Regions from separate parts of the Homo sapiens genome. Here region 1 is reported to be linked to region 2. Evidence: microRNA targets listed by miRTarBase, many of them from high-throughput screens and not tested one by one. Region 2 holds a microRNA gene; the other region holds the end of a gene's coding sequence.

The links. Region 2 holds the annotated microRNA hsa-miR-4425 (UGUUGGGAUUCAGCAGGACCAU, at 2,748-2,769, opposite strand). A microRNA usually pairs through its seed, bases 2 to 8, with sites in the 3' UTR of a target mRNA and lowers its output. Matches are read on the target gene's strand: a 7mer-m8 pairs with bases 2 to 8, a 7mer-A1 pairs with bases 2 to 7 and ends in A, and an 8mer does both.
Region 1: miRTarBase lists KIF5B as a target of hsa-miR-4425. Seed matches in the 3' UTR shown: 8mer at 2,405-2,412.

The regions. Positions count from the first base shown.
Region 1 is chr10:32,008,934-32,016,053 of GRCh38, forward strand. It overlaps KIF5B (kinesin family member 5B), which reads right to left. Exons shown (of 26, transcript NM_004521.3): 25 at 6,576-6,726; 26 at 82-2,583. The coding sequence ends at 6,596. All of the region lies in intron 2 of LOC107984219 (a long non-coding RNA gene), which reads left to right. Among named protein-coding and RNA genes, the nearest start is that of KIF5B, 44 kb to the right of the region's middle.
Region 2 is chr1:25,019,201-25,026,320 of GRCh38, reverse strand. MIR4425 (microRNA 4425) reads right to left here and starts at 2,818; the gene lies at 2,735-2,818. RefSeq lists enhancers at 516-1,189, 3,191-3,720, 2,620-4,182, 5,061-5,170, 4,661-5,187 and 4 more.

The DNA of each region.
Region 1 (7,120 bases), not on the chromosome of region 2:
TCACTATTCTGTCAAGACAGAAGGCCTGAACTCAGCCATGTAAAATCAACCTAACACTTAAGTTTTAAGAAAGTCATTACATTTCAAAAAATTTTCCTCTTTATTTAAACATAAAACGCATTTACAACATGCAAGTTAACTTAAAATTAAACGGTGTCTTCCCAAACCAAGTATTTGTGAATGTATCTTCAAGCACTGAAAATAAACCAACATATTCCACAGGTAGACTCAGACTCTCTTCTGTCACCTCATGTCAAATGGAGTTAAGCACAAACTGAGAGTTACGCACAGTAGTTTTCTTAAGTTAGGCAAATAATTTAATTAATCGCCATGAATAAATATTCTCTTTATTTCATTGAGTTTCTCTTCTGAACCATCTATCAATGCCATTCAGAGGAACGTTAATATATCCAGTCAAAAAGACACTGCAAATTGAAATGTGTCAATATCCTAGATGATCAGAAATTTTCATTTTTAAGAGTAAGTGCTGTGTTTAATGACCTACCATAGCAAAAAGCAGTTCACTGAAAACAAATTTATGAAATTCTTGGTACACTTTATGAAAGTCTGAAATTATAAATAGAAAAGAACCATCAAGATACTTTTTAAAAACCTAACATTGTATATTCTGAACCACATGCTAATTAAAATTCGTTGTTCATTACACAGCACCAATACCCATGATACATCTTACAAGAACAAAACTAACATATTTGGAAAAAAGAGAAAAAAAAATTCTGCTTCATTTACGAATGTTGCCAAAGGAGGCAAGTTTTCAACTGAAAACAAAACATAAAGGTCTATGTGGATGCAGCCAAATGTTTCTCCATTTAGAAAATCATCATAAAAGGTGGCAGCACTTTTTTTGCTTGTTAACTATATTACTTATAACTGGCTGCACCAACATTTCATCTCAATTTTTGGAGTGTTTCTTCTGATCAATCCTAAAAGCAACACAATCATTTTAGAGGTTGCAGACTACAACAGCAAAGATTTTTGACTATTAAAAAAATAAATAAATAAATTTATATTTTAAATCAAAATTATTACAAAAGTGGAAATTACAATAGTTACGGAAATAGAAAAATAAGCCAATTATGATCTGAGTCTTCTGACTATGGCTCCAAATTTAATACAAATATCTGTGTATAAAACTTTTGCAAAAAGTTAATTCTGCCAGCAAGATCCTAACACAGAACTTTCCAAGTTTCTCTGCTAACCTTAAATCCCCATTCTCTGTGAATTTCTGCTAACACAGTTGCAGTCACCGCCCCCCTACCACTGATGAAGCAAATAGTGAAATCTCTTTCCCTATTACTTTTACAGTTTCCTAAAATAAGCTGTTGACTTACTTTAATCATCTGAGGAAAAAGTGGCAAAAATACGTATACACTTAGTACTGATTACAAAATTATCGGCTATGGCCAAGAAAATAATTTATCTAATGATTATTAGTGACTTGCAAACAATTTACTATTTCTAGACTAAAGAAATAAATTAGTGTACAAATTAGTGTAGCAGGTTAAAAACACCTCAGGGATTTCAGACCAAAATTGACCTATATATATTTTTAATTCATCATATATCTGTCCTGTTTCTTCATTTTTCTCAATTTCCACACGCTATAAATTTAGGTCGGCCAATAAAGTACTAACCGTATAAAATTATGTTTAATCCTATAATATCTTAATTCATTTTACTAATATTAAAGATGACAAATTATTACCTGTCCAATACTTATATTAGCTAGCAGGCTCACCAGAATAAAGCAGAGTATTTTAATTCCATCAAGACTTGTTGAGTACAGAATCAGGAAAAAGAGAAATATAATTCCTTTTCCAAACTCCCTTAAACTAAGATCTGCTTTTGATACTTTAAAATATTTCTATTCAAAATAACTCGGCAACAGGCATTTCATGAGATAACAAGTAGCCTTGCTCAGTCTCAAATGCCTATTAGGCATTTGTAACGTTTCAGTGCTCAAACAGTAGTTTTCAGGAGCAAACTTCAGAAACAATACAAGTAATTTTAACCCTGATATCATCATTTCAAGGGATTTTAAAATACAGTACTGACTGGATATATTTTATGGGCATGTAGTGTTGTTAAGTGGTAAAATTTAAAGACATTTAACCTAAATGTTCCATTTTCTCTTAAGAAAAAAAAAGGAAGACGTTTTAATAGGAAAAGAAAAACAAGAAGCAGTAGCAGCTAGGTAATTTAAACTGAGATTAAAAAATAAACATACACAAAAAATACAAAAAGTACAGTCCTATAAGGTACAGTTAGCTTGGCACAGTAAAGACTAAATTTAAGACACGATAGACAAACTGTGTAATAAATAGGGCCACAGTTGTAAACTGTCCTTTTTCCCTCCTAAGATGCCAAAATTGCACTCTAGTTGTGTTGGGAAGCAGCAGAGTTTACAAGAAGAGTAGGTAGGAAACAGCTGTACAGGCCAGGTATAATTTATACATTTTTTTTAAAAGTTATAATTCTACAATCCCAAGGGAGTAGAGGTTATAGTCATTGAATGACTGCTTGATACCATGTCCTCTTCGTACTTCGATTACTTTTTAACACCTAAAAATGGGAGAAAGCATAGAGTAAATATGTTTAGTTTTACAAAATTGGTGTTTGAGATAATCATGAAGAATAAAACAAAATAAAATATGCCAACAGTTTATTATAAACATTTTAGCCAACATCTGTGGCTACTTTCCCCAAAATTAGAAGGATGGCAATATTAAATGATTTGGTTTCCTTTTATATACTACCTAAGTAGAACTGTTTAGAAGCAGTAATGTTTAAAGGGAGGTCAGCCCTCCCTTTGTTTTTATTCTCCCAAATAAAGCTATGGGTAAGCTGATTTATGAATTGTATTTGTTTAAAAAAGAAAAAGACGGCTAATCTTTTAACCAGCAGACAGTGGTCAGTGACCTTCTTAAACCAAGGAACACTAACCAGCAACTACTAGTTATATACATAGAAGCTTTAAAAAAAAAAGGGGGAGAGGAATAGGGATAAACAAGAGGTGTATACAGTAGGAAAAGTAACAGTGAAATAAATAATTCTAGTAGTATTAAACTGCCTACTTACCTATGCATTTAGAAAAGCAACCTATTTAAAGTACTATGCAAGGCAGAAGACTAGTCATGTAAAACTGGGAACTAAAAGTATCAGTATTATAAATGTCATCCTTTCCAAAAATAAACACAGTGACTTGAAATGTTTTTCTTAACATTAAAAAAATTTCTCGCCGGGCACAGTGGCTCACACCTGTAATCTGAGCACTTTGGGAGGCTGAGGGAGGCAGATCACCTGCGGTCAGGAGTTCAATACCAGCCTGGCCAACATGGCAAAACCCCGTCTCTAGTAAAAATACAAAAACCTTAGGCGGGCGTGGTAGTGGGCGCCTGTAATCCCAGCTACTCGGGAGGGTGAGGCAGGGAGAACTGCTTGAACCCGGGAAGCAGAGGTTGCAGTGAGCCGAGATCCTGCCACTGCACTCCAGTGCAAATTATTTAACATTTAAACAATTTATCACTTAAGTGAATCATATACTCCCCAATCATGGTTTAAGATAGATTATAAGAGTTTGAAAACTAAGAACCACTATCTTTGGACCAGCATCAAAACAAACCTGTAAATAATTGTATTTTTACATCATAACTTTCAAGTCTTGAAAACCTAGTTTGGCTGGGTTAGCTCCCTCCCTTATGTGCTAACCTGGTGTCACTTTACTGCTATCAGCAATAGTTAACAAAAGTATGGTCTGTCCTCTCTCTACAATGAGGTAAGTTTAAAGTTGACATATGAATTTTAATGTGAGGACAATATCCAAAAAGGATAAACTTTCTATCTATGCTTTGAAAATCCCCTTGCCCAGCTCCCACTTCCAGAAAGGTAGGAAAAGGCTTGCATCTACTGAATACTGTGTGCTGGGTAACATCTTAACTCATGTAATTTTTTTTTTTTTTTTTTTGAGACGGAGTTTTGCTCTTGTTGCCCAGGCTGGAGTGCAATGCCACGATCTCGGATCACTGCAAACTCCGCCTCCTGGGTTCAAGCGATTCTCCTGCCCCAGCCTCCCGAGTAGCTGGGATTACAGGCATGTGCCACCACGCCCTGCTGATTTTGTATTTTTAGTAGAGGCAGGGTTTCTCCGTGTTGGTCAGGCTGGTCTCGAACTCCTGACCTGAGGTGACCCACCCACCTCAGCCTCCCAAGTGCTGGGATTACAGGTGTGAGCCACTGCTCCCGGCCAACTCATGTAATTCTTAAGAATGACTTCCATTTTACTAATAAAACTGCTATGAGTCCAAAGGGGAAAAACACAGGAGTTATCTCTAATTATCATGAAAACCAGCTATTGTATGTCTACTGATATTAAGTACATATTATCTATGACATAACTTTGTCAAAAATGTTTATGCTGAGTCTAATCAATGCTTTTGCATAGAAATAGAGGGAGAACAAGGTGACTACACATAAAAACAATCAGACACAGGTGTTATACCCTCAAGATAACTGGGCCTACTCAGTAAGTCAATATCACTAAAGAGGGTGCTCATTCAAGATCAGAAGAGATTTAAGGGATAAAACTAAACGCAAACAGCAGTCCTGAATTGTACTCTGGTTTAGACAAACCAGCTGTACAGGATAGTGAAAAAGAAATTGGAAAAATCTGAATATGGAATGGTATTAAATAATATTAAAAATATAATCTTACTGGGTGTGATAATATTGTGGCTATGTAGAAAAATGTTATTTTAGAGATTCATTAAATAGTTAAGCAATAAATCCATAATTTTTATGAAGTACTGTAAAACAAGTCAGAATGAGAAAAAAACTATTAAAAAGTTTATCTGCTCAAGTTCATAAAAGTAGTCAGGATTCCAACTTGGATGGAACTCCATAGTCCCTGTTCTTTTCACTCTACCACTGTTTTAAATCCTACATTGTGTGAACAAAACGTTTAAAATTGCTAGAAATGTGAATCCTTCAGAATATTTCTTAATTCTCTACTCAACTTAGAGCCAGTATTATGCAAAATGTCGAAGTATAAACAAGCAACATTAAAATAAACTAGCTTTAGTATTTGTCAGAAACAGCTGATCATTTCATAATTATCTAGTATTTTTTATTTCCAAAGCACATACACACATCAGGGACTTCCTGAAGAGTTAGTTACAATCAGAGTTGCTGCTATATGACCAATTATTAGGCAACCACTAACCAATCACGTTGTAGAAGAAAGTGTTCCGAATATATTGCTAAGTTTAAAAAGCAGGCTACAAAATACAAAATTAGCCGGTGTGGTGGTGCACGCCTGTAATCCCAGCTACTTGGGAGGCTGAGGCAGGAGAATCGCTTCAACCTGGGAAGCAGAGGTTGCGGTGAGCCAAGATCACCCCACTGCATGTCAGCCTGGGCAACAAGAACGAGGCTCCGTCTCGGAGTGGGGCAGGGGGGTGTGGGGTTTGTGGGGGCAGGGGGCCGGAAAAAAAAGCAGGCTCCGAAGCAGCATATGTAGTAGAATAAGTGGAGTCTATTACAATAGTTATCAACAGTTTAAACTTTTAAATTTAAAAACTAATACAGAAAGCTCCAGAAAGAGAGAGAGAGAGAGAGAGATAGTATATTGTGTAGTATCTCTAGATTTTTTCTAATTTGTGACTGTTTTATGCCCTACAAAGAACAGATATTACTTATATAATTATAAATAAAACTCAGAAATCTGTTAGTAAGCTGGGCTCATAAGCAATTTGGTGCAGTCTTTCTAGAAACCAATGTGTTAATATGTAGCAAGAGCCTTAAAAATGTTCATATTTCCTTGTAATTGCATTTCTGGGAACCTTCTGGAAATAATCTCTAACAGGTTAGGGAATACAAGGAGATGTTTCAGGTCGGGCGCGGTGGCTCACGCCTCTAATTCCAGCACTTTGGGAGGCCGAGGCGGGCAGATCGCCTGAAGTCAGGAGTTTGAGACCAGCCTGACCAACATGGTGAAACCCCTCGTCTCTACTAAAAACACAAAAATTAGCCAGGCATGGTGGCAGGCGCCTGTAATCCCAGTTTGGGAGGCTGAGGCAGGGGTATCGCTTGAACCCAGGAGCCAGAGGTTGCAGTGAGCTGAGATCACGCCATTGCACTCCAGGCTGGGCGACAAGAGTGAGATTCCATCTCAAAAAGAAAAAGAAAAAAAAAAAAAGATGTTTCAAATTTCATATATGAAAATTTTGGTTTTTGAAAATTTCAATTATGGAAAAAATTAATATAATTACATGTCTAGCCAAAAGGAAAGGAATGTTTATAAACCATGGTACATCCATTAGACACAGTATCAAAAGCTATTACAAATGGTCCAATGCTAGATTTCAAAACAATTAAGACCACAAATTTGAATATATAGTATGATCTAAACTACACAAAAAGATCAAACTAAATTACTTTTATAATGCTTAAGTTAAAAAAATCATAACACTAATGTGAGAATTTTTTAAAACCAAAAAACCTATTTAACAACCAATTTTCCACAAACAGATATGAAAAGCCAGATATAAATAACAAACCTGTGGGTATGTATAAACGATTACACTTGTTTGCCTCCTCCACCTCGCACTGCCACTGGCTGGCTGTTCTGAACAAATGCACCTCCTCCACGAATTGCACTTGGGTGAGTTGGAGAAGCTGCTGGATGTTGCCCGGGACGAATAGGTTTAGCTAATATGAAAAATAAAGACAGACTTTAGAATAAAGTTTAAGATGTGACTGCAATGACTGTTAAGGTTTCTTCTCTTATTCACAACAAATTCCCAAATGTTTTGTTTTTCTTTGCCTTTTTGTTTCTCCATCACTTTTTCTTTTCTGTAACATCCTTTTCTCTAGGACCTATACAATTCTTAGCCTTTAAAAATCTTCCTGGCCAGGCGTAGTGGCTCATACCTGTGTAATCCCAGCACTTTGAGAGCCTGAGGTGGGTGGATCATTTGGGTCCAGGAATTCAAGACCAGACTAGGCAATAAGGCAAAACCCTGTCTCTACAGAATATAAAAAAATTAGCTAGGTGTGGTGGCGTGCACCTGTAGTCCCAGCTACTTGGAAGGCTGAGGTGGGA
Region 2 (7,120 bases):
TTATTATTTTGAGACAGGGTCTTAGCTCTGTTGCCCAGGCTGGAGTGCAGTGGTGCAATCACAGCTCACTGCAGCCTCGACCTCCTGGGCTCAAGCCACCCACCCGCCTCAGCCTCCCAAAGTGCTGGAATCCCAGGTGTGAGCCACTGTGCCTGGCCTATTACTATTATTATTATTTGGCGATGATGGTGGGGACTACTGGGCAGGGAACCAAGAGTCAGGATGCTAGCCCCTGCTTTAGCATGGCCTCCCTGGGAGTCCTTGGACAAGTCCCCTGCCTTTGCTGGGCCTCAGCCTTCCCCTCTGTACAATGGGGGGATGCCTATGATTCTGGGGCCAGGGCAGAAAGTTGGAAATGGGCAGAGCAGGGCCTCAAGTTTTCAGTGCATTTGTGACTTTCAGTTTGGAGACAGGCAGCTCTGGCCTTGGTGGAGATGGCTCTCCCAGCGTCTGTGTTTCAGAAGACGGGCTGGGAGTGAGGACTCTCAGCTGCAGTCTCCCATCCTTCCCCAACATGCCTGAGCCTCCAGGTTCTGCCCCGCCCAGTCAAGCAGGGTTCCCTTCCCCAACCCCCCAGTGAGTTGCTGTATGACCTTGGCTAAGTCACTCTACCTCTCTGGCTTCCATTTGGGGTAACAGAGTCACAAAGGCCTCAGCAAAGGGCAGCCTGTCCTGGCCACCCACTCCCCTCCCTTTGGCCACATATCATCCCTCCTATTGTAGCACCACTGAGCTGGGAGAGCCTTGGGGGATGGTGGAGGCCAAGTGTCCAGTTTCACAGGTGAGGAAACTGAGGCCCTGAAAGGTCTGCCCAGGGCCAGCCATCTCCAGTCCTCATGCCCTCTTTCTCTGCAGCATCGCTCTGTAGTAATAAAGAACACACCCAAATGACAGAGGCCGGCAGCTAGAGCTCCAGCCGACTTCCAAATCCCCAGGCTTCCACATTCCCAGACTTCTTTGAGCCCCTCTGTCCTTGTCTGTGGAACCGGGATAGCAGCAGACTCTGCTCACAGGCAGGGTAAGCCCTGGAGGGAGGAGGAGGGCATGAGAAGCAGTCTGAGGACACCGGTGTCCAGGGTGGCCCTCCTTCTCCCCACTCCCCCCAGGCCCCGTGCAGCGGCCCAGCCTCTCTCTTGCCATCCTTTGGCTTCCTGCCCTCAGTTTCCCCCTCGTGCCTCCCTGGCCCGTGCTGCCTCTTGCTAGGCCTCTAGGGCAACCAGGAGAACCCCACAGAAGAGGCAGCAGTGATGGCAGGTGGTGGGCACCGAAGCCCAAGCCCCTCAACCGTCCTCAGAGCATTTGATGTCAGAAGGCAGTATTTGTTTCCAAGGCCAGCTGCACTGCTGCTTGGTGTGCCCCTGCTCCTCTGCATGATTCCTACCTGGCGTGGCTGCTGCTGTGGCTTCTTCCGTGGTCATCTATCCTTTCCCCCCTTGCTGGCCTGGCTGCACCCCCTGAACACTGCATTGCCCCTGTTGGCGTGGCTGCTGCAGCCACTGTAGCCCTTATGTGGGCAGAAACGGCAGCGCCTTTGCTGGCATGGCTGGTCTGTGGTCAGATAAGCTGCTCCCCACCCACCCTGGCATGGCCACTGGGAAGCACGCTGTGGTCCACTGATGGCCTCTGCTGCCAGGATCCAGGTCTGAGGCCACAGCTGTCTGCATCAATGGCAGTGCTCGAGGCACTCACTGGACATCTCTAGATGGCGGCTGCTGTTCCTTCAATGGGGGCAGCCCAGCCTCACTTTGAAGTCCATCACTCAAGGGACCCCAGCTCCTCCAAGACCCTGGACCCCCAAGACTCTCTGTGCCCACCTCTTCCCAGAACCTCTCTCTGGCCCTGGTGATCTTTCGACTCCCAAGGATGGAGCTGAGTGGTCCTTTCTTACGGGACTTCAGGGTAGCAGAGAGTGGCAGCAGGACAGGGGACCTTCCTCCCTGCTCCCATAATGCTCCAAGGCCATCACAAATAGCCCGGGATCTCCAATAGCCCGTGGCACAGCTGCCCTGGGAGAGTAGGCTACTCTGAGACCGCCTGTCTCCCCCAAACCCTCATCAGGCAGCAGTTTCAAGGCCTGTGTTCTCCAGGGGGCATCAAAGGGATTTCTGTATAATGACAGAGAAGCTTCTGGAAAATTTTCATGGCCATTGGTGCTCCAGGCTTCTCCCAGCCTCTGGCCACCTTGGTGGTACTTATTCAGTCCACAAACCTTGGGGACCTACTGTGTGCCAGAGACTGTGCTTGCCGTGGGGATGGGGCAATGGGAGGCCAGACCCATCTCTACCCTGGGGACACTCACAGTCTGGGTGAGGACACAGGCGGAAACAGTGATTTAGCTGCCGTGGTAGTGAGTACACAGAGACTCGCTGTGCGTCACCAGGGTACCTGACAGAGACAATCCTGGAAAGTTCCTGGAGGAAGTGACCTTCCAGCCCATCTCTGAGCCTTGGGGAGGATATAGTCAGGCAATTGGGGAAGGGTCAGTGCTTCAGGCAGGGGAAGAGCATGTGCAAAGCCTCTGAACAGAAGGGGCATGCCCTTTATAGCCTTGAGTCCAAATCCTTATTAGTTACGTTTGCCAGGGACAGGTTGGCACAGTGGCTAAAGGCTGGGGCTCTGGCATCACATGGCCTAGGTTTGAATCTCACTTTGCTGCTTACTAACTATGAGACAATGTATAAATTACTTGACCCCCTCCCCATCCTTCAGTTTCTTCATCTGTAAAATGGGAATATTACTTTACACGAATGGTCCTGCTGAATCCCAACAACACTTCGCAAAGCTGTTGGGATTCAATGGGACCATTCATGTAAAGCACTTAGCACACAATAAATGCTCAATAAATCTTACCACGAATCTCACCTACTGAGCATCTGTGTGTGTTCCGCAGTTTATCTTCACACAGATCTGTGAAGCTTGGACCCACTGCTCCATTTCATAGATAAGAAGACTGAGGGTTAGAGGACTGAATAAGGTGGAGATCGACTGAGGTTTTGGAGGAATCAGGGAGGCTTCTTGGAGGAGGTGGTGGCTGAGCTGGGTGTTGAGAATGGCCACCCCTGCCCCACCCACCAGTCAGGAAGGCTCACTCTAAGCAGAGTATTTCAGCTTCAGGGGCTCCACTGGTCCCGGGCTCCCTGGGTCTGGGGATGGAACAAAAGGGCTGCCCTGGGCACTCCCAAGGCCTCCCAGGAGTCTCAGCAGGGAAGGCCCCATCGGGCCAGGTTCTCAGGCTACAGAGCCTCCAGCGAGCATCAAACAACAAAAAGGCTTTTCTCACTCTGGATGAGTCACCAGAGCGAGCAGACGCCCCGTCCCTGTGCTGAAGAAGATGAAACCACACATCTGAAGAAGTTTCCCACGCCACCACTTGCTTTAAATAGCTGCAGAGAGAAGTGGAGGAGGGAGGGAAGGGGAGAGGGGGTAGGGAAGCAGGGCTGTCCGCACCAGGACCTGGCTGGGGTCTCCCCCATACCCCAGGACCCTGACACGCACCCCTTGAAGCAGGTTGTTGATGAGAACTCAGGCCCCATGGGTGCCAGGGGAGCCCAGCAGAGGCCCAGAGCCCACGGTGGGCCAGGGCACAGCAGACAGATAGGCAGACAGCAGGAGACACATCCAGCTGGGCCGTGGGGTGCACACCCCTGTGTCAGGGTGCAGGCCCAGGAAGGGGGAAGTTGACCTCACTGTGCACCCCGGTGCAGCCTCTAGGCCCCCAGCCAAGCTTCCTCGCAGGTCACCTGACACCCCTGAGTGCTCTGGCTGTGCCCCCCTGCCTGGCTAGGTTCGTGACTGAGCCCTGGGCGGCATTTCCGGAGGCAGGCCGGGAGCTGGGGCTGCTTACGCACTTGCTGTCCCCCCCCGCCTCCAGCAGGGCCGGGTGAGAAGAGAGCCCCCCATCCCCCCCTTCCCGTAAATGAGCTCACCCCCACCCCAGGGCCTCACAGGGATTCTAAGAAGTGGAAGCCAGGCACCTGCTCCTCGCCCACAGCAGGGGGTGGGGGTGGGGTAGGAGGGGGAGGGGCAAGGGAGAGGCCAGGGGTCCTCATAACCCCTCAGCTCAGCCCTCAGGCCTAGGCCAGGGTTCAGGGGCGGCCCCAGGGGTTGGTAAATATTCTTTCCCTTAGGTGTGGAAGAATGCCCTCTCTGTTGTCCATGCGAGAGCAGTGCAGTTCAGGATGCCTCCATGGCCCGGGCCCATTTTTCAGAAGGCAAACTAAGGGAATCCCAGAGATGCCTTGGAGGCCAGTCTGGTTCCCTCCCACGCTGGGAGTAAGATCACCTCCTGGATGTTCGGGCAGCCCTTGGTGACCATCAGTGGCTCACTAAATATCTGCCTTTGGAGACCCTCTAAGCCAAGGCCCAGAGAGGGCAGTGATTTGTCCAAGGTCACACAGCAGGCCGGGGGAGGTCCAGGCATACCTCTAGGTGAGTCCATACCCTGCCCAACCCACCAGTACTGCCAGCAAACATTCATTTGGCATCTACTGGATCCTTTGCAGGGACATGGGATTAAATAAGACAGCATCCCACCGACGGGGTCCAAAAAATAATCATGAGCAGTCGCCAGAACCTGGGCCAGGGGATCTCAGTGCTGCCTTCTCATCCAGGTCTCGAGGCTTTGAAAAAATACAGATTCCAGGGCTCCAGCCCTGAGATTAGGATTCAGCAGACTGGGAAGGAGCCCAGGAACCTGCATTTTATAAAGTTCCTCTAGTTGATCTGATGGATTGAGAAGCTTGGAACAGACTGTAAGCAAATTGAGGGCAGGGGCTGCCCCGAAGGAGGGGAGGGGTTTTCCAAGGGCTTCCAGTGAGAGACACACACCCCAGCCTTCCCCTCCCACACCAACCTCTGCCTGTACACAGGGCCCAGCCCAAAGAGGCTTCCAGGAACGAGGCACTGACAAGAATAGTTCCAAGAGGCTGAATGACGGCCCCCGCCTCTCTCTGCTCTCCCCACTCCCGAGTTCACATGCAGGACAGGGTGGCCATGCTCCAGGCAGCCAACGAGGTGGGCGATCCCACTGTGGACGGCTCTGCCTGGTGTTAGGGCCCTGGCCTGTGCCCTCCGTCCCCCGTCTGCACCCTCCCTGAGGTCCCTGCGGCCCAGGCTGGGTGGCTCCAGGCCTCCGTAGGCTGTAGGTCCTGGGGTGAGGGGGAGTCTCTTGTCTGTCCAGAGAGTATGAGGCTGGGAAAGGCGGGGGTGCTAGGACCTGCAGCTAAGGTGTGTGCGGGCTCGCTTCCTGGTACTCGAGGAGTTTGGTGCTCCCGGGCCTGGTAGCGTGGGAAGCAACATGGAGGCCCTGGGCTGGGCTGTCCCTGTGTGCCTGGCAGAGCATCCAGCCAGGACCAGGCTCAGTGAGGACTCATGGACCGACTGATCTGGGGATGTGGGTGGCAGAAGCTGCCCCCTCCCTGTCTCTAACGCAGTGCCCAGCTCGGCCACCTCACGAGGCCACTGTCCTCTCAGACTCCATGTCTGCTTCTGTGCAATGGGCAGCAGGGGTGGGAAGAGAAAGGCTTGTCCAGGGCCACAGTGGGGCTAGAGGGAGCAGCCAGGCCCCTCAGCAGGCCTGCTCCTAGCGCCAGGGGCCACATCCCCACAGCCTCCGCTTTTGCAGAGGGCAGGGGAGACAGAAGTCACCGAGAGGAAGTAGAGAGCCCTCCCCAGACCCATCTGAGTGGGGCTGCCAATCGCCGGCTCTGGAGCTTCGAGCAGGGCATGGTGCCACGCCTCTCAGAACCCCATTTTCTCATCTGTGCAGCAGAGACCCCCCGACTCCAGAGGGCTGCTTTGAGGGTTAAATGAGCAAAATCTCGTGAATGTGTGAGGAATAGTCATTATTTCGATAGGCGTGATTGACATTTTTCTCACTAGAGTGTGAGTTCCAGGGGCAGGGGTTGTGCCTGACATTGGTAGGTGCTCAGTTGGTTTGTGGAGTGAATAAACGAGTGTAGAGGGAGCCGTTCTCTTGGCCTGTGCTGGAGGCTTCCTGGGGCCTTGTTCAGCACATGTGTGTGCTCACGTTTGTGTGCACCCATGTGTGTAGGCATGCATGTGCATGTGTATGTGCAGGCATGTATGTGTGTGCACGTGTGTGTAGGCATGTATGTGAATATGTGTGTGCAGGTATGTATGTGTGTGCAGATGTGTGCATGCAAGAATGTATGTGTGTATGCATGTGTGTAGGCATGTATGTGAATGTGTGTGTGCAGGCATGTATGTGTGTGTAGGTGTGTGTATGCAGGTAGGTATGTGTGTGCATGTGTGTGTGGGCATGTATGTGAATGTGTGTGTGCAGGCATGTATGTGTGCGTGTGCAGGCATGTATGTGTGTGTGCAGGTGTGTGTGCGCGCAGGTGTGTGTGCAGGCATGTGTGTGTCCGGGCATGTACGTGTGTGTCCAGGCATGTATGCGTGTGTGCAGGTGTGTGTGTGCACAGGCATGTAGGTGTGTGTGTGTGGGCATGTATGCATGTGTGCAGGGGTGTGTGTGTGTGCAGGCATGTGTATGTGTGCAGGTGTGTGTGTGTGCAGGCATGTATGTGCGGGAGTGTGTGTGCACGCATCCACATGCCTGCACACTCCTGCATGCGGGTCTGGCCCCGGTGTGGAAATGTGGGTCTGTGCATGGCCTGTCTGGGTCTGTGTTTTGCATATGGGTCTGGCATGTGGCCATTTGCATGTACTTCTCAGTCTGTGGGCCTATAGCTATGAGTGTGCTCACCCCACAGGTGTCCAGGCTTGGTCCGGAGTGAGGGTGTCTGATTATTGGTGTATGGCGGGTATGGGAGGTTGCCTCCTGCTCTCCTGACTCCCTCTCCCCAACCAGGACTCCAAGTTGTGAGCCCGCCTGGGAGTGCCAGACTATGTAAAACAGAGACCAGGCCCAGGGAAGCCCCTGCAGAGTGGCCCCTGGGGACTTCCAGGCCCCTCCTCCCTGGATGCCCCTCCCCTCAGTAAAGCCTTCTGCCCCTTCCAAAGTCTCATGACTCTCCACTCAGGGGCTTCCTCTCATATCTGGGGGCTGCACACAGTGCCCAGATTTCCCTGTCTGCCCTCTCTCCCACCACTGCTTTCAGCCCCTCTTGCAATGCCAGGCCTGGCGTCTCCCTCC